3 linked regions of the Homo sapiens genome follow. The protein of the gene in region 3 interacts with the protein of the main gene of each other region in a pairwise test. Each region holds a gene or a part of one and is shown on either strand. Other genes may lie near its edges.

Evidence for each region. The genes of interacting proteins can lie anywhere in the genome.
Region 1: the proteins of PLEKHG7 (region 3) and ATXN1 interact in binary tests that used the Homo sapiens proteins (3 or more experiments, as listed by UniProt).
Region 2: the proteins of PLEKHG7 (region 3) and CCT5 interact in binary tests that used the Homo sapiens proteins (3 or more experiments, as listed by UniProt).

The regions. Positions count from the first base shown.
Region 1 is NC_000006.12:16,303,445-16,310,473, reverse strand, and holds part of ATXN1 (ataxin-1), read left to right. Parts: intron 1-3,614; coding exon 3,615-4,145; 3' UTR 4,146-7,029. UniProt on the Homo sapiens protein: Chromatin-binding factor that repress Notch signaling in the absence of Notch intracellular domain by acting as a CBF1 corepressor. Binds to the HEY promoter and might assist, along with NCOR2, RBPJ-mediated repression. Binds RNA in vitro.
Region 2 is NC_000005.10:10,260,267-10,266,905, reverse strand, and holds the end of CCT5 (T-complex protein 1 subunit epsilon), read right to left. Parts: intron 6,115-6,639; coding exon 5,995-6,114; intron 5,347-5,994; coding exon 5,161-5,346; intron 4,426-5,160; coding exon 4,288-4,425; intron 3,773-4,287; coding exon 3,592-3,772; intron 2,251-3,591; coding exon 2,123-2,250; 3' UTR 517-2,122; downstream 1-516. UniProt on the Homo sapiens protein: Component of the chaperonin-containing T-complex (TRiC), a molecular chaperone complex that assists the folding of actin, tubulin and other proteins upon ATP hydrolysis.
Region 3 is NC_000012.12:92,754,988-92,762,016, reverse strand, and holds part of PLEKHG7 (pleckstrin homology domain-containing family G member 7), read right to left. Parts: intron 6,193-7,029; coding exon 6,077-6,192; intron 5,720-6,076; coding exon 5,626-5,719; intron 266-5,625; coding exon 186-265; intron 1-185.

The DNA of each region.
Region 1 (7,029 bases), on a different chromosome or scaffold from region 3:
ATTTTAAATATTGTTACATATAGCCAATATTCATTCAGATTCACCATGTATCTACCATTTTCATTCCTCTTCATTCCTCCCTGTACAAACTTCAATCTAGATTTGTTTTTTCTCTACCTAAAGAATACCTTTTAGTATTTTCTATAATGCAGATCTGTTGATGGTGAATTCTTTTAATTACTGTTTGTCTGAACATGTCTCTATTTTGCCTTCATTCTGGAAGGATCTTTTTGCTCCATATAGAATTCGCCATTGACAATTCTTTTTCTTTAGCACTGTAAAGATATTCCATTGTCTCCATTGTCTACTGGCTTCCATTATTTTTGTTGAGATGTAAACTGTGAGTTCCATTGTTGCTTATTTGGAGATAATATGTATTTTGTTCTAGAGGCTTTTTTTTTTTAATGGAGTTTCTCTATTGTCGCCCAGTCTAGAGTGTGATGGAATGATCTTGGCTCACTGCAACGATCTTGGCTCACTGCAACGATCTTGGCTCACTGCAACCTCCGCCTCCCGGGTTCAAGTGATTCTCCTGCCTCAGCCCCCCGAGTAGCTGGGATTACAGGTTCCTGCCACCATGCCCAGCTAATTTTTGCATTTTTAGTAGAGATGGGGTTTCACCATGTTGGCCAGACTGGTCTCAAACTCCTGACCTCAGGTAATCCACCCACCTCGGCCTCCCAAAGTGCTGGGATTACAGGCAGGAGCCACCACACCCAGCCTGTTCTAGAGGCTTTTAACGATATTTTTTCCTGTTTAGTTTACAAGATGTCTTTGATTTATAGCAGTTTAATTCTCATCTGCCTCAGTGAGGATTTCTTTTTGTTTATTTTTCCTGTTTGGGGCTAGGCCTTCTTGAAACTGTCTTATTATCCTTCTTCAGTTTGGGAAAATTCTTAGCCATTACCTCCTCAAGTATTAACTTCTGCCCTATTATCTCCCTCTCTTCCTCCTCCTAGGATTCAAATTATGTGTCTGTTAGCCCCTCTCAATGTATCCTATGTGTCTCTTACCCTCTCCTCCATATTGACCATCTTTTTGTCTCTATGTTCACTCTGTGGAGTCTCTTCTAAAGCTCTAATTAGAGAATCCAGTTCCTGAATTCTTTCTTAATCCATGTCTATTCAACTGGAAAGCTCATTGCATTCTTGATTTCAGTGGTGTATATTTTAATTCTACAATTCTCATAGACCTTTTTTAATTAATTAATTATTATTATTATTATTATTTATTTTTTTTTTTTTTAGAGACAGAGTCTCACTCTGTTGTCCAGGCTGGAGTGCAGTCTTGTGATCATAGCTCACTGCAACCTCTAACTCCTGGGCTCAAGATCCTCCTGCCTCAGCCTCCTGAGTAGTTGGGACTACAGGCACGCATCACCACACTAGGCTATTTTTTTTTAAATTTCTGTAGAAACGGGGTCTCATTTTGTTGCCCAGACTGGTCTGAAACTCCTGGCCTCAAGTGATCCTCCCTGTCTCAGCCTCCCAAAGTACTGAGATTACAGGCATGAGCCACCATGCCTGGCTTCATGGATCTTTTAAAAACAGATTCTAGTTTCCTATCAAAATTCTCAAGCTGTCTTTAATCTTCTTAATTATTGTAAGCATAGTCTTTGTAAAGTCTATATGTATGACTCTATATGAGAAGCCCTGGTGCATCCTTTTTTAAGATCTGATATTTTGCTAGTGCTTATACAAGCTATCTGGTCTCCTCATGACCACCACCCCCCTTTTTTAAATTGAATGCTTTTATTTGCAAAATTGTGAAAGTAATTCAAGACCTTAATCCAGTTTTAGGGACTCAGATGAGTCAATCTGAGCTTCAGACCTTGAAAGGCCTGTTGGCTTGTGGTTCACTGTCTCCTCTAAGGGACAGTGCTTTGGGGTCACAACTCAAAAGAATGGGGCTCACCAGAGAACACCCTCCCTTGGTGTATCCTGAACTCCATTACCTGTTCCCTATGCTCTTAACACTATCAAAAGCCCACTTGGTTTCCCAACTGCTCCACTTTGGAATGTTCAAGTGCCTTCAGGAGAAAACAGGCCCCCAACACCAGCTTCACCTCTCTGGGCCATCATCTTTTCCTGATCCAACCCAGGAAGTGTGTGTGTGTGTGTGTGTGTGTGTGTGTGTGTGTGTGTGTGTGTGACGGAGTTTCACTCTGTCGCCCAGGCTGGAGTGAAGTGGCATGATCTCGGTTCACTGCAGCCTCCGCCTCCCGGGTTCAAGCGATTCTCTTGCCTCAGCCTCCTGAGTAGCTGGGATTATAGGCGCCTGCCACCACACCTGGCTAATTTTTGTATTTTTAGTAGGGACAGGGTTTCACCATGCTGGCCAGGCTGGTCTCAGAGTAAAGTGGCACGATCTTGGCTCACTGCAACCTTCGTCCCCCGGACTCAAACGATTCTCCTGCCTCAGCCTCCTGAGTAGCTGGGATTATAGGGGCCCACCACCACACCTGGCTAAGTTTTGTATTTTTAGTAGAGATGGGGTTTTGCCATGGTAGCCAGGCTGGTCTCAAACTCCTGACCTCAGGTGATCCACGCGCCTTGGCCTCCCAAAGTGCTGGGATTACAGGCATGAGCCACCGCGCCTGGCCTTTTTACTATCTTATTTGCTGTCCAGTACTATAAGAAAAAAAGTTTAAACATTTTGTCCAGAGTTTTTAAATTTATTTGTTTGCTTATATTTTTGTTCAGAGTTTTTAGTTGTCCTCAGAAGGAGGGTTGGTCCAAATTACCTAGTCTACTACATCTAGAAAGGACATTGGAAATTGACTTTTTTTTTTTTTTTTTGAGACGGAGTCTCACTCTGTGGCCCAGGCTGGATCGCCCAGTGGCACGATCTCGGCTCGCTGCAACATCTGCCTCCTGGGTTCAAGTGATTCTAGTGTTTCAGCCTCCCAAGTAGCTGGGATTACAGGTGCCCGCCACCACGCATGGCTAATTTTTTTTTTTTATTTTTAGTGGAGACGGGGTTTCCCCATGTTGGCCAGGCTGGTCTTGAACTCCTGACCTCAAATGATCCACCCACCTTGGTGTCCCAAAGTGCTGGGATTACAGGCATGAGCCACTGTGCCCAGCCACCAAGCATCCTTTTAGGGGCTGGGGACTCAGTGATAAACACACTGTGCCTGCTTCTTGGAACTCACAGTCTCACTCTGATCCATGTTTAGTCCTGTCCTGTATGATAATAGCAGTTGTCCATTGAGCTCATAAAATCTAAGACCGCGCTGGGCTTGTGAGCCACCTGCAGAGCCTAGCTTGGTGCTGAAAGCTAAGTGGGTGCTCTGTCATTACTGGGGTTCGATTGACTGGTTCTAACAGAGACCAGCTATAGAGCTAACACTTGATGGAATATTTTGAATATTGATGACCTTTTCACTGGCTTCTGCCTATGGCAAGTAGAGGTACAACCCAAAGAGAAGAGCCTCATTTATAGTGTGTGGCTGGGGGAGAGGGAGGTTTGCAAACTGAGTCATTTTCCCCCATTCAGCCTGTGTGTGTCTGTGTGAGTTCATACCTGTGTGTGTGCATAAAATCAAACAAGAATAAAATGTTTTCATTTGTTCCCTTCCTTCTTCCTCTCTCTGTCTCTCCCTGTTTCCACAGGTCAGCGTTGAAGTTTTGGTAGAGTATCCTTTTTTTGTGTTTGGACAGGGCTGGTCATCCTGCTGTCCGGAGAGAACCAGCCAGCTCTTTGATTTGCCGTGTTCCAAACTCTCAGTTGGGGATGTCTGCATCTCGCTTACCCTCAAGAACCTGAAGAACGGCTCTGTTAAAAAGGGCCAGCCCGTGGATCCCGCCAGCGTCCTGCTGAAGCACTCAAAGGCCGACGGCCTGGCGGGCAGCAGACACAGGTATGCCGAGCAGGAAAACGGAATCAACCAGGGGAGTGCCCAGATGCTCTCTGAGAATGGCGAACTGAAGTTTCCAGAGAAAATGGGATTGCCTGCAGCGCCCTTCCTCACCAAAATAGAACCCAGCAAGCCCGCGGCAACGAGGAAGAGGAGGTGGTCGGCGCCAGAGAGCCGCAAACTGGAGAAGTCAGAAGACGAACCACCTTTGACTCTTCCTAAGCCTTCTCTAATTCCTCAGGAGGTTAAGATTTGCATTGAAGGCCGGTCTAATGTAGGCAAGTAGAGGCAGCGTGGGGGAAAGGAAACGTGGCTCTCCCTTATCATTTGTATCCAGATTACTGTACTGTAGGCTAAAATAACACAGTATTTACATGTTATCTTCTTAATTTTAGGTTTCTGTTCTAACCTTGTCATTAGAGTTACAGCAGGTGTGTCGCAGGAGACTGGTGCATATGCTTTTTCCACGAGTGTCTGTCAGTGAGCGGGCGGGAGGAAGGGCACAGCAGGAGCGGTCAGGGCTCCAGGCATCCCCGGGGAAGAAAGGAACGGGGCTTCACAGTGCCTGCCTTCTCTAGCGGCACAGAAGCAGCCGGGGGCGCTGACTCCCGCTAGTGTCAGGAGAAAAGTCCCGTGGGAAGGGTCCTGCAGGGGTGCAGGGTTGCACGCATGTGGGGGTGCACAGGCGCTGTGGCGGCGAGTGAGGGTCTCTTTTTCTCTGCCTCCCTCTGCCTCACTCTCTTGCTATCGGCATGGGCCGGGGGGGTTCAGAGCAGTGTCCTCCTGGGGTTCCCACGTGCAAAATCAACATCAGGAACCCAGCTTCAGGGCATCGCGGAGACGCGTCAGATGGCAGATTTGGAAAGTTAACCATTTAAAAGAACATTTTTCTCTCCAACATATTTTACAATAAAAGCAACTTTTAATTGTATAGATATATATTTCCCCCTATGGGGCCTGACTGCACTGATATATATTTTTTTTAAAGAGCAACTGCCACATGCGGGATTTCATTTCTGCTTTTTACTAGTGCAGCGATGTCACCAGGGTGTTGTGGTGGACAGGGAAGCCCCTGCTGTCATGGCCCCACATGGGGTAAGGGGGGTTGGGGGTGGGGGAGAGGGAGAGAGCGAACACCCACGCTGGTTTCTGTGCAGTGTTAGGAAAACCAATCAGGTTATTGCATTGACTTCACTCCCAAGAGGTAGATGCAAACTGCCCTTCAGTGAGAGCAACAGAAGCTCTTCACGTTGAGTTTGCGAAATCTTTTTGTCTTTGAACTCTAGTACTGTTTATAGTTCATGACTATGGACAACTCGGGTGCCACTTTTTTTTTTTTTCAGATTCCAGTGTGACATGAGGAATTAGATTTTGAAGATGAGCATATATTACTATCTTTAAGCATTTAAAAATACTGTTCACACTTTATTACCAAGCATCTTGGTCTCTCATTCAACAAGTACTGTATCTCACTTTAAACTCTTTGGGGAAAAAACAAAAACAAAAAAAACTAAGTTGCTTTCTTTTTTTCAACACTGTAACTACATTTCAGCTCTGCAGAATTGCTGAAGAGCAAGATATTGAAAGTTTCAATGTGGTTTAAAGGGATGAATGTGAATTATGAACTAGTATGTGACAATAAATGACCACCAAGTACTACCTGACGGGAGGCACTTTTCACTTTGATGTCTGAGAATCAGTTCAAGGCATATGCAGAGTTGGCAGAGAAACTGAGAGAAAAGGGATGGAGAAGAGAATACTCATTTTTGTCCAGTGTTTTTCTTTTTAAGATGAACTTTTAAAGAACCTTGCGATTTGCACATATTGAGTTTATAACTTGTGTGATATTCCTGCAGTTTTTATCCAATAACATTGTGGGAAAGGTTTGGGGGACTGAACGAGCATAAATAAATGTAGCAAAATTTCTTTCTAACCTGCCTAAACTCTAGGCCATTTTATAAGGTTATGTTCCTTTGAAAATTCATTTTGGTCTTTTTACCACATCTGTCACAAAAAGCCAGGTCTTAGCGGGCTCTTAGAAACTCTGAGAATTTTCTTCAGATTCATTGAGAGAGTTTTCCATAAAGACATTTATATATGTGAGCAAGATTTTTTTTAAACAATTACTTTATTATTGTTGTTATTAATGTTATTTTCAGAATGGCTTTTTTTTTTCTATTCAAAATCAAATCGAGATTTAATGTTTGGTACAAACCCAGAAAGGGTATTTCATAGTTTTTAAACCTTTCATTCCCAGAGATCCGAAATATCATTTGTGGGTTTTGAATGCATCTTTAAAGTGCTTTAAAAAAAAGTTTTATAAGTAGGGAGAAATTTTTAAATATTCTTACTTGGATGGCTGCAACTAAACTGAACAAATACCTGACTTTTCTTTTACCCCATTGAAAATAGTACTTTCTTCGTTTCACAAATTAAAAAAAAAATCTGGTATCAACCCACATTTTGGCTGTCTAGTATTCATTTACATTTAGGGTTCACCAGGACTAATGATTTTTATAAACCGTTTTCTGGGGTGTACCAAAAACATTTGAATAGGTTTAGAATAGCTAGAATAGTTCCTTGACTTTCCTCGAATTTCATTACCCTCTCAGCATGCTTGCAGAGAGCTGGGTGGGCTCATTCTTGCAGTCATACTGCTTATTTAGTGCTGTATTTTTTAAACGTTTCTGTTCAGAGAACTTGCTTAATCTTCCATATATTCTGCTCAGGGCACTTGCAATTATTAGGTTTTGTTTTTCTTTTTGTTTTTTAGCCTTTGATGGTAAGAGGAATACGGGCTGCCACATAGACTTTGTTCTCATTAATATCACTATTTACAACTCATGTGGACTCAGAAAAACACACACCACCTTTTGGCTTACTTCGAGTATTGAATTGACTGGATCCACTAAACCAACACTAAGATGGGAAAACACACATGGTTTGGAGCAATAGGAACATCATCATAATTTTTGTGGTTCTATTTCAGGTATAGGAATTATAAAATAATTGGTTCTTTCTAAACACTTGTCCCATTTCATTCTCTTGCTTTTTTAGCATGTGCAATACTTTCTGTGCCAATAGAGTCTGACCAGTGTGCTATATAGTTAAAGCTCATTCCCTTTTGGCTTTTTCCTTGTTTGGTTGATCTTCCCCATTCTGGCCAGAGC
Region 2 (6,639 bases), on a different chromosome or scaffold from region 3:
GCGGCTGCTTGCAGAGTTGACCCTCATCTGAATTCAACCAACCTCAGGTTGAGAACATTCAGAGAAAAAAATTGCATCTGTACTGAACATGTAGATTTTTTCTTGTCATTACTCCCTAAATACAGTATGACACTTACATATCATTTATATTAGATATTATGAATAATAGAGATGATTTAAAGTATACAGGAGGATGTATGTTATATGCAAATACCACGATTTTTATCAGGGACTTGAGCGTCCATGAAATCTGGCACCTACAGGACATCCTGGAACTGCCCCCACATAGAAATTGAGTAGGCTGAAATTAAAAACAGGACATTTAACAAACCTCCAATGAATCTAGCAGGTGTAGAAATCGGGAACCAGCAGTAATACATGGGGACTTACATGGGAATCTAGCCTTTGGGTCAAGCACCCTAAGTTGCTTTTGCTCCACATGGGGAAGGAGAGGGTGTGGCCAAAGTACCAGCAAAATAAAACTTGAGTGATCTGGAACGTGAAAAATAAAAGACATCACGTGGAAGAGGTTTATTACAAATAAATGAAACAAAAATCAAAGGCTTGTGAAACATCTCTAAGTCTTCCTGTTCATTGACCAGTTTCTCAATCACAAAAAACAGGAACGTCTGTGAGGTTCAATTTTGGAAAGGGGGATTGGTTTAGTGGCTCTTCTGATACAACCACAGACCCCTCGGATAAGACTGTGGTCCAAAGAAGGCTGCTGTATGTTCTCTGTAGGCTAGACTCAGTCCTTGTAAATAAACTCAGTTTAAAGCTTTCAATACTCAACTGCATAGTTCCATATAAACATGAAAATTAGGAAGATTGCTATTAGCACACATTCCTAAATCCACAGGAGTTATTTAGCAAAACATCCAATGCATGAATGTAGAGAAAACACAATGACCCAAAAGTTAAGACTGGTGAATCTCCAGGTTCACATGAGACGGTAACCCAAATTCATCACTTAACCAAATTTAGACAAGAGTCACCATTTCCTAATTCTAGGAAATCTGACTAGTTAAGGTGGCATAACTAGTGATAAAGTTCATCATGAGCTTTATCATCACAATGCTAAGAAACATTATTTTAGAAAATCTAGAGAATCATTAACAAGCAAATAACAGAGTAGGGGATGAGCTGGGCCACTCTGGGGTCAGACTGCCTGGGATTGACCTGGCCCTACTACTTGCTGGTGGTGAGATGCTGGCCAATTATGAGTACTCACCTGTAAGATGTGAGCAGTAAGAAAGTGTATCTGCCTCACTGGGTTGTCAGAACAGACAATCCCGGTAGAGTTCTCGGAGCGTCTTGGCCCATCACTGTTAGCTAGTTAATACTTTAGTAAGTACAATTAATTTCAGTCACTCTATCTGAACATGGTAACTGCAAGATTTCTCCCTTATTTCCTGTAATTTACTTTAACCTCCACTTCACTGTGTCCCTCTGATAGGGAAACAAGTGGGTTCTGAACTGCCCTAAGCCTGTGCTGGTGGCCAGCTCTGCACATGCTGGTCCTGATTCTGTGTATGAGCTGTGTTCAGGGTGGGGCCGGGGCCAGAGGAAAGCAAAGGCTCACATGGGTCTCCATCAGCCCTAAACAACACGCCAGGTTAGGCTGTGAGCAACCTAGTAACAGCACTTAAGGCATCCCATAATTCTGTGGTGGACCCTCTACAATCAAATGGCCCACCCATTTAGATAGGAAGAGGATCAAGCCCATATTCCTCTCAATATGAAAGTGCATCTTGAGAGCTCCTGTTTAAGCTGTTAAAATAGTCCCTACAGCTTATTTTGAGAAAAAAAAATCCACCCAAACCCCTTCAATTAAGGCAGCATTTAATTACTGTTACAATAAACGTTTCTTAAACCCGAAGAGAAGATAAAGGTTGTTTAAACAGATTCTTTTAATACAATGAATACAAAAGCAGTTGAGATGGTACCCCCACGATTACACAGCTTTGAACAAGTGAAACTATGGTTACCAAACAGCTATTTTTATTATAGCATCTACAGTGTCTGGAAAAGGATGTAACAATAAATAACTGTAGATGCATCACGAGACATCCATTTACTTAATCACAGAAGTGGATCTTGCTACATAGTTTTCTCAATGTCTTCATTCTTCAGATTCTCCAGGCTTACGAATGTCATCAATCTTCAAAATCATTCTAACCATTTGTGTTGCAAGAGATATCTGTTGCTTTTTGCCAATCAAGGTTTCTATGACATGCTGTTGCTTCATATCTGAAAAATACAAGGACACTGATTATCCTAAAATAGCATACAATAAACTATCAATAACCAACTCTTTCTGATTTAGGGAATCACAGTAAGACTTAAGAAATACAAACTCCTGGAAGCCAAGCAGGAAGCCACTAATTTCAGTTATATTTCATTTTCAGATGAATGTAATTTCATTACTTCCAAGGACACTCTGGAACTCGCACCTGGTAAAGAGAGCTGTTGGGAGGGCACTGTCTTCAATGACTAGCTACAGGGTGACATTTTTCAGGAACATCTTATCCCACAAAGTATCCATACCCTAACTTAGGAAATCTAAAGTAAGTCCATCTGACCACAGCTGAAATGTAAGATATTTCCAAGAAAGATCTAGAAATGCTAATTTTTTTTTTGGAGACAGGTGTCACCCAGGCTGGAATACAACAGTGCGATCTCAGCTCACTGGAACCTCTGCGTCCCGGGTTCAAGCGATTCTCCTGCCTCAGCCTCCCGAGTAGCTGGGATTACAGGTGCCTGCCCTGACCAGGCCTGGCTAATTTTGTATTTTTTGTAGAGATGGTGTTTCACCATGTTGGTCAGGCTGGTGTCAAACTCCTGACCTCAGGTGATCCACCCGGCTTGGCCTCCTAAAGTGCTGGGATTACAGACATGAGTCACTGCGCCCGGCCCTAGAAATGCTAAATTTGAGCACAACCAGGCATTCAAGTTAGAAACATTAAATGTTTGCCTCACAAAGAGTTGCTACTATTGAAACCCTTGGAATTTGAGCATGGAAAGCAGAATGTACCTATACCTTTAAGCAAAAGCTGTCATTCTGTGGATGGATTACAGACATGGCCTGATTTAGTACAGAAATGCCTGAGACCACTGTTTCAACAAGCTACAGCCACCATATCTTTTTGGGAGCCGAGCTACACAAGTGGCTACAGAGGTTATATATTACATTTAGAAAACACTCCACAGTGTGCAGGATTAACCACACAGTGAACTGTGAACTAAAGCCCACTTCAGAGCTGTTATATATATGCTGCCCACTGACAGACATCTGTGTAAAAACAGCAATAAGGCATTACTTCCCAAAAACCAGAGATTAAAACCTAAGTCATCTTTGGTGATAGTACCATATGCACTTTACTGTTATTACAATGAGTCTCATGTTGCTAGGTCTAGTAGTCTAACCAATTCCTACGGCAATCAAACATTCTAAAATTCAGGACTTGAACACCTGAAGTGGGCTTACATATTTAAAAAGACACCATCATCTCACAGCACATACAGTGGATGATTATTCAGTTTAAATCAGACATCCCCCCCCCTCCACGCAGAGGCGTGACAGCTCCTCACCATTTGTCCCCTTGTGCAAACAGTCGATGCCAAGAGCAGGGTTCATCTCCTTCACCTGTCTGGCTCGGACTTCGGTCATAGTCTGGATGGGATTCATGCCACTGTTTTCAGAGAGGGCCATGGGGATGACCTCCAGTGCGTCGGCAAACGCTCTCATGGCATACTGTTCTAAGGTGGGGCACTGGAAAGGTACAGAAGTATGGTGAGTGCACTTGGCGAAACAAAACAACCCAGCGGCACCGTGAAAACACAACTGTATCACATACTTTGAAAAGTCAGCTCACAAAGAATTGTAAGAACAGGCTGTCTTTATTTTTGTATCTATCAGAATATTATAATGTCACCACAGAATACAGGCAGAGGGTATACATACATGTGAGAGATGTCTCAAAATACAGCAGCTCTTATGGCTTTATTTTTAAGTTATAATATTAATTTTGAATTTCAAATAACATTAAAAGACTATAGATTTATTATTTCAAGGACGAACTGGCTGAAAACAGCTGAGAAATGCTAGGTTATGGTAACCAGAATCTGAATACAGGAACGTGGGAATTAACTTAGATTAAAACACCTGTCACCTACACACAGCTCACGATGCTTGTTTTGCATCCAGCACCTCGCTGTTCCGCAGCTTCACAGTCTCCACCATCAGCGAGGCCTGAATCTTTCACTAAGTCTGCACAGATCCCTTACCTTATCCGCCTCTTGGCTAACTGCCAGGGCACAGGATATCTCAGCAGCCCCTCCTCCATACACCACACGATTATCGCGGATGAGGTTCCGGATGACACACAAAGCATCGTGAAGGGATCGTTTCGCCTCCTCAATGATCTAAGGAAAACAGCTTTGCCTGAATTAATGTGATCAAGATCTAGTCAATTTAGAGCCAAGTATCTGGCACCTTTTTAAAGACAGAGAGGCTGTGCTCTAATATTTAGATGGCCTCCACTATCGGATAATATTTATCTTTCTAGCTTTCCTTCCTGCAATGTAGTTAACAAAATTCAAGAGGCAGAGGCGGCCAGTGACTCATTCTAGGATACACGGTCAAGCAAGAGTCAAAAACTGACAAAACTCGCAAAGATTTATCACAATGTGCTAAAAACTCATTCTCAAAGAACAGAGATCGTCAATGGTTATTCACTTGGGTTCCCTTTTTCTACCTAAGGGACAGATGTAAGTCATCCTTGGTAATAATACCATATTGTAATTAAAATGAGTCTTATGTTGCTAGGGCTAGCAGTTTAACCAACCCCTAATGTAACTGTATCAAACATTCTAAAATCCAGGACTTGAATATTTAAACTGTGTTTAAGTATTTAAAAAGATATAAAAATCTCATAGTGTATATTGTATACTCTAAGGGACAGCAGAAAGGCAAATGTGCCTTGTGAAATTAACAATTTAACATGGTCTTCAGTAATTTTACACCATGATACGTCATTGTTTGAGAACCACGATTATTTTTCTTATGGTGACTGTGTCTCTGTTAAATACACACAGGCAAAAAAGCCAGACCATGAAGCAAAATAAGCAACAGTATAGGACAAATAGTTGAATTCTCACCATCTTATTTCCTCCTCTAATAAAAATGGTTACAGCTCTGGAGTTCTTACACTGCTCGATGACCAGCATTTTATCCTTAGTTGTCCCAAATGAGATCTCCTGTACAAGACCAGCAAAGCCCAGCTTCTCGGCTGTGAGCTCTGAGAACCTGGGGACGATCCGCCCTCCTGTTGCGATGGCAATCAGCTAATTGGGGTGGTCAGGGAGAAGGATGAAGACAGTACTGGTGAAGTTAACTTTCAAAACTGGGCCACAAATGAGCAAAACTTGATCTAAGACCAACTTGTTCACTAGAACTGCTGCCCCACTTTGACCGAGACATCTCCAGTTCAACCCAAAGCACCTTGCTAGGTAACAAGGCTCTTGAGCTGGACGTCTTGATTGGGGCTTTGGTGCTGCCCAGATCTATCACCCGGCGCCCGTCCCCTAAGCTCATACCCTCATCTCCCATCTGTGCAGCCCTCCCTCACTCTGGGAACCCAGCCTGCATGTTCCTTGCACTGCGCTGCAGTGAGAACCACCGAGGCACCGTTGCCTGGGACTGCCATTAGTATTTGGATGAGACCAGGTCTTCCAGCCTTAGTAAGTCAACGACAGGGCCAAGTGAGACAACACAGGGAGAGAATTTCAAAATGCCAGGGAACACCAGAAACACACAGCACTGTTATCCAAACAGTAACAAAGATTCCAGCGCTTTCCTCTCTCCCAGCTCACCCTCCCCTCATCTGCCAGCCTTGGTGTGATGCAGTTATTTAAGGCAGGGCTATCAAAACACCCCTCAACACATAAGATGAACCCCTACTTCTCAAAGTCTCTTCACGTGGAACATCCTACCTCAATTTCAGGTCCTCCTACCCAGCGAACCGCAGGCAAGTTGTTCTGAAGAAGTAAGTGATTTGCTTCATCATCAAAGCCCCACTGACAAATTGCTAGGTTAGCACCAGTCTCTTTAATCTGGGAAAAGAACCACCACAATCGTATTAAGAGAAAGTGGGTATTTATTCTTCATTACAATGTTTGAAAAAAGGAGAGGCACAGTTGGGTGTAAGGCAGGTGCACTCAAACACAAAAGCAAAGGAAAGAGAAGGAAGGAAATAGACAAGTGTCCACTTTTCTGTCAGTTCCAAATTCTAAATAGTGAATATTTTATCAATGGGGATCACCTCATTGTTTATGCTTTAAAAACCACAAGCAGTAATTCTGCTGAACCCTATTGTTACAGTGAGGCAAAACCCACAGAAACGTCAACAAAGCTAACACCCTTCCCCAACCATGGGGAAATGGCTAACAGCTCTGTCCTGTCACAAACACCTACAGAGTAGTTTCACCTGAGTATGTTTTAAACAAACAATGTTATGAACCACTTGCAACTTGACTGTCTCACCTGAGTGGACAATCCTCAGTGGATCCATAAACTAATTCGGGCACTCACAGAGGCAACCCTGCTTCCAGTAAGAAGCACCCTCACCCCGACCTGCA
Region 3 (7,029 bases):
TATTTATTTATTTACTTCAGAGCTTTATGACTAAAAAAGCCAATAGTTTATAATGCCTTCATTTTTTAGAGGAAAAGATTCAGCTTAAGAATATTTTATATTTTTACCACAGTTTATTTAGAAATATTTCTAAACTCATTTAGCAAACTTGTTTAGAAACGTACTTTGAAATAGCAGCATTTTACCTTTTTGTTGCACTTAGTTTTCGTAACTAAGAGGAAATCATTGAAGAGAAACAGATAAACATCTAGGAATCTCGTGCTTTCTGAGGAAAAAAAGAGAAGCTGAAATGGGGACCTGAAACTGTTAAGTAGAAGAGTTTTTCTTTCCCTTTCTTTCTTTCTTTCTTTCTTTCTTTCTTTCTTTCTTTCTTTCTTTCTTTCTTTCTTTCTTCTTTCTTTCTTTCTTTTTCTTTCTTTCTTTTCATTCTCTCTTTCCTTCCTTCCTTCCTTCCTTCTTTCTTTCTTTCTCTCTTTTTTTTAATCAATGAATTCCTTAGAAAACAAAACTGGGTGAGTATTACGGCACCCCAGGGGCTCCAATCATGTAGGTCAGAAAGCTGCCTGCCTCAATGTTGAATTGATTTCTTCCTAAAGCAGAGACTTGATGAGAGGCCAAGCTTCCAACATTAAAGACATTGAATTTATGATGCGTCTCATTTGAATCTAAGATAACTCAGATGTTATTTGTAGTGGCTTCAACTCAGCCGAGGGTAAATCTATCAACTGATTGAACTTGCAGCATTTTTGCCTCTAGATTCCTCTGGGTGGTTATTGGCAAAGGCACACATAACCAGAGAAAAGGCATTTTCTCACTGCTATGAATTATGCTATTGTGTCACTCAAATTTCATATGTTGAAGCCCTAAACCACTAGGGTGGCTGCATTTGGAGTAAGAAAGTAATTAGGGTAAAATGAAGTGATAAGGCTGGTGCACTGATCCAGTAGCATTAGTGTTCTTTGAGACACCGGATACCTCCACCCTATCCCCCACTCCTTGTCTTGAAGAGAGCGCTCATCAGGAACTGAATTTGCCATCACCTTGGCCTGGGACTTTTCAGCCTCCAGATTGTAAGACATAAATTTCTGCTGTTTAAGTCAGCCTGTCTGTGATATTTTGTTATGGCGGCCTAGGTTGACAGTCATTAAAACTACTTATTTCTCAAGTTTTAGAAAGTGTCTATAAATGTTTAGATATTCTCCATCTGTTTCATATTTACAAACTTTTCTGATATTAGTTTTAATAGTTACTTAAGGCAAATAGCTTTTCTTTAGTTTTCCCTAAGAAGGGAATAGTAGTAGAAGAGAAACCAAGTATCAGAATAAGGCATCTCCTTCCTTATTTTACTCTATCCCTTAGAAATTAGAAAAAAGGGTTAAATTTAAGTGATTTCAGAGGAAAAGGTTTTTAGAGGGAGATGTGACAAGTGCTTAGAGTAATCATAGGAAAACCCAGTAAATTTTTTTCAGCTTGTTCTATTTAGATTATATATATATATTGTTCTAGAAGTTCTTTCTTATATGTTTTTACCCCTAGAAGATTTAAAGTAGTAGCTAAAACATTTAGGATTCATTTCTATCTCCTCTCATTCTTTAAGTTTAGAGAAAAGATTTTTTCTATATTTGCATAGGGGAGAAATCTGGTATTTTATTCAAATTAAATAGTCCTTGAATAGTTTTTTTAAAAATCATATTAAAAACTTAACTTTTCATAAATCAAGTTGTGGCAAAGACTTCTGGTTGTCCCTTGAAAACCATTCTCCCCTTCTCTTGTAGCAGTAGAATCCCCAAGTTTTAGTGAGTACCCATCCTCAGAGAACAGAGACTACATTTCCTTGCTGCTGAATATGACCAAGGAGCTAAATTCTGACCAATGGAATGTGAGCCAAAGCATGCAACTTCTGAGTCATATTCGTGAAGGGCAGGGCTAAGCTCTCTTGTCTCTGTCTCTCCTTCTCACTGGGTAGAATACAGACATATTGGTGAGTCATCTTGGGCCACACAGAAGAAGGCAGTTCCCTAGATTTGGGAATAAGACAGCAGGAATCTGGATTCCTAATGACTTCATGGAGTGGAGTTGTCATATAGGTTGAGACTTAACAAGAGAGAAATAAACTATCTTTTTTAACCTGTCCGTCTCCAGTGGCTGAATCTATATGCCAACTGATATACAGGGCTAGGAATGGTACAGCACTAGACCTGTGAACAGCCAGCTGAGCCTGCCATAGCAAAATACCACAGACAGGGTGGCTTAAGCAATAGGAATTTATTTCTCACAGTTCTGGAGCCTGGGAAGTAGATCAAGGTGCTGGTCGATTCAGTTCCTGATAAGGGCTTTCTTTTTGGGTTTCTGCATGTGTTCTTACATGGCAAACAGAGAGAGTGAGCTCTCTGATGTCTGCTCTGATTAGGATACTAATCCTATCAGATCAAGGCTCCAGCCTGAGTCCCTCATTTTACCTGCATTTCTTCCTTATTCCAAGTATAGTCATACTGGACATTAAGGCTTCAACATGTGATTTGTGGAAGAACACAATTCAGTCCACAGCAATGGAAGAACACAATTCAGTCCACAGCAACCTTCAAACCTGTAAAATTTGCTATTCCCATCTTCTGCTACTCATGTATGCGTCAGCTCAATGATCATTGTCAAAATGAAATAGTTTTGTTTTCTCCTTCTAATTTCAACTATTTTATTTTGACAAACAGGCAGGGAGCACACCTTCTACGTATTCCAGATGTTATTCTAGATAATGTTACAGACATTATTCTAGAAAGTGGTAATTATTTTATCTACCATTTATTGAGGCCCTAGTTTTCCACCAAGTAAGTTATGAAACAAATTATGAAAATGTGTACCTTCTGGGAATGAGAACATATACTTATTTGATTATAAGAGTACAGTTTTTAAGGCTGGGAGAAATTTGGAAACACAGTATGTGTTAGGTTTCATCACATCATTTTCATCCTCATTGTCATCATCATTATCAGCAGCAGCAATAACATTTATAAAAGAGAATAAGAGAATTTAAATTTTCCCAAAGCCTACAATTGGTGCTAGATCCCCTGACTGTTGGTTCAATGCTTTTTTCATTTAAAATGATGTCCTGTTTCCTCACTTGATCTTAGCCAAAAGACCAAGAAGTGAAATGTCCTGTTTCTTCTAACACTATCACCCTGCCCCATCAAATCTCGATGCTCAACTCTGAGTCCAGTCTCAGGACTTTGCACTTGGCTTGATGCCATGTAGACTACATCATATGGAGTCTCCATCTCTGATGGAATTTGACTAATACAGCATATGCCATTAAACAAGTGCCTGGTGTTAGTGACATTATGTAGTTCATGTCCATACTACCACATTTGACTGTACAAGAAGCATTTTCTGGAAAAGTTGAGTCTGTTTGTAAAGAGTCTTTCTTAGGTGAGCTTCCAACCCATACATCTATGACAGTCACTTTGAACCCATGCGATGCATGAATTCACATCTGACTTAGACTTTCACCCACCAGGAGCTGCTCCTCCAGCTTCCATGTGGGTTCTCATTATGCCCAAACCTGAACCCTAAAATTGACTCCTTGACCCACTCCCTCTACCACTCATGGCATTATCAACAAAACTTTCAGATACATAGATTAGAACAGTTTTTGATACTCATTTCCTCTTCATCCACTTTGTCGATCATAAAATCCTCCTGGTTTTGCCTTTGCAATGTCTCCCATATCCTTTTCTATCATGCCCATTTCTAATGTGTTAGGAGAAGCTGGTGCATCTTGCAGTATTGGGAGGTAGGTAGGAAGAGGGAAGGAGTGAACCAAAGCCTCACATAATTTCAGGTGGGGCTAATTTTGGAGGTAAAGATACATGCTGGAACACAGATAATGTTTTGCTTTATTACTTTGATTTGTTCTTGTCATAAAATATAATTACTTTGAAGTTGTAAATAACATTAAAGAAAAGTTAAAATTGTTATGTTTTCAAATGAAAGTGGGGGGTGGGTTGACCACATGTTAAAAATGGTAGAGCAACAGACAGGCCCCGAGTCTTCTCACCTCACCGTGTTCACCACTGAACTTCCGGTTTCACCACTCTGCTTTGGTCTCCTCTATGCCATTTTGAACACTGCTTATTAACAACGCTTTCTTCAACACCCTTTTAACCTATCACTTCCCTGTCTGAGAGCTCAATGACTTCTGGTTGCCTGCAGTTTCCTGGCTGGGTCCTTCTGTTTGGTTTCCAAGGCAGTTGCTCTGATTCTGGAAGCCAGCTGGACCAAGGCAGCCAGGCTCCAGCTGGTACTCGGTCATTTACCCACCAGGTGAACTTGGGCATGATACAGAACCTCCCTGAGCCCCAAATCTCTCACCTATAACAAGGGATTAAAAGCAACTTCTCTATTTAACTTACTGGAAAGAGACAATGTATGAAAAAGCCCTTGGATATAAAACGCTGGATATGTCTATCTTCCTTATTTAACAGCTGCCAGGTGGGGATTATGTCCTAACCTGACATCCAGACTACCTCTAAAATAGAGCAGAGTTTCAATATACATGTATTAAGGGATTATTTCCCAGCCCCTCCCCACCAGATATCACATCACCACTGTTAGGCAACATCCCATCCCACAGGACTTCACACTCAGTAAGTGCCTGGTCAAGATTTTGTGCAGAAATGAATAAATAAATGATTTAAAACCTTATTTCAGCCAGGCAGCCTTTCTGATCATCATGATATTTATTGGGCATGAAATTTGTGTCAATCATTCTTTTGAGTGCTTACACATCCGTTGGTTCATTTAATCCTCACAATAAAGTAAGGTAAACTGAAGCACAGGAGATCACTGTAAATGGCCCAAGGTTGTACAGGCAGAAAAGGCTGAGCAGGGAGTGAGCCAGGCAGTCAGCCCCAGGGGCTTGGCTTCCTATGTACTCTGCTAGAAACTAAGTTTCTCCAGGGGCTTCTGCCTCCAAGACTTCTCCAGCTGTGCTATTTATCTGAATGACCTCCCTCCTGTCCTTCCACTGACCTCATCCTTCCTGCCCCTCCAAGCCCACCTCCAGTCCCATGGACTGCACGAAGCCTCTCCAGGGCACTGCAGCCTCAAGGACTCTCTTCTTTTCTGAACTTATCCTGAAGGTCTGGTAATAAGGCAGAGCTTCCCAACTAGAGGGAAAGAATTATACAGAATGAGTTTTTATATCTTCCAATAGTACCTACCTAGCACAACTTGTCCTATATAATATAATAGAGTCTCCATAAACATTTGAGAGCTTGATTGTCTGGCTCATTGGGGGAGTACAACGATTATGATGATAACAGCTGCCATTGACTATTTACTAGATTCCAGACCGTGAGCGAAGTTGTTCTTGTATGTTGTTTTAACAATCCTATGGAATAGTTAGAGTTATCCCATTACAGAGAGAAAACAGAGAGCACCTAGCTAGTTATGTTGCGAAGTCTTCATTCAAGCCTGAGTCTGTGTGACTCCATAGGGACTCTCTCATTCACACCCTCCATCACCTGGAACATAGGCAAACACAAGTCCTCCTGCTCTTCAATTACTGGCAGTCAAACAAGTTACAAGGCGGCACAGATGTTGGGTTTTTTAAAGGAAGCAGTTATTTACCTGCAAGAGTTAATTTTCCTTCATAGAGAAGGTGTCTGCTGGTTGGTGACAAGATGTTTTCTGCCATGTGTTCTTTAAAAATGTGTTTCAAACACTTGTAAAACAAGCGAGAAAATAAAAGAGATGTTGTTAGTGATTGGAAGAGAACATGTTTAAAAAGCTGGGGCAATTAACTCCATCTAGAAAGTTCATGACATTTGGAAATGCCAGCAGATGGACATGGGAATGGGAAACAATGAAAAACCCTCTCAGAAGGACCATCATAAGAATGGCACAGCGACCTCAGCCTCCCCGCATACAATGCCCTACAGATGAAGACTTTACTTCTTGTTCATGAAACTAGATTTATTCTTCAAGTGGACAGATGGGGACATCTAAGATGATTGTATTTCTATCTGAATGCCCAAATTCCAGAAATGGACATAAGTCCTAATTGATTTTTTTTTTGTACCTCTGGAATGAAAAACCTTTTATCTCTATCCCAAAGCGGTGGCCACACTATAATCTCCTGTAGATATCTAAATTTTTGGAAATTGTCCAGCCACTTCACTTTTCCTTCAAGGTCCCCTGAAAGACATGACATAGTCAGTATATTTTTAGGTGCATATGACATTGCAGTATAAATTTTAACCAAGGTCCACAGGAATCATTTAGAAACACTGGCTGCCCCTGGAGCCAGACAATATATAAAGTTCATTTCACATATTGCTTGCTGTTCATGCGTCTTAGAAAACTCACTAATTTGGAATCAGTCTCTTGCAGAGAAAAATCAAGCTTAGCTAATTTAATTCAGTAGTTTGAAAGTATATTGTGTATTCTTATTTCAATAATACCAATAAAATCCTTGGTAGTTTTCTCTTATTCCCTAGACCACACAGCCTATAATTAGAGGAGGAAAAAAAAAATCAGACTAACAAGGACAAACATATGTTTTTGTCCCAATCATAAAAGTATATATTCACTTCATGATCATGGTGATTATTTCTTTTTTGGTAGGAACTCAATTTCTCTTTGGAAGGTTTATATTCATTTTCCAATGTTTTCTAATAACATGTTGCTATTGAGGGTTTGAAATGTTTTTTGAAAACATGGAGGGCAAGTAAGAGACCTGAAGAATCACATTGTTAGTGGAACCTTCAGAATTCACCATCTTTAAGGTAATAGACATAAAGGGAGGCCACACAAATCTCTTCCCTCAACAATGAGAATCCATCTTTCACTGAGAAATCTCCAGAGGTGCTGCTTTATCTTTCCTCACAAACCCATCCAAATGAGTAATAATCCTTAAGATTACTTCTAAAGCTAAAGAAGTCATCTTTAAGAGATTCTTTGTCTTACTTGCTTGATAAACTTAATTCCAGCTCTTCAGATAATTTTAGAATTTGAATAAAAAATTTAAAAACA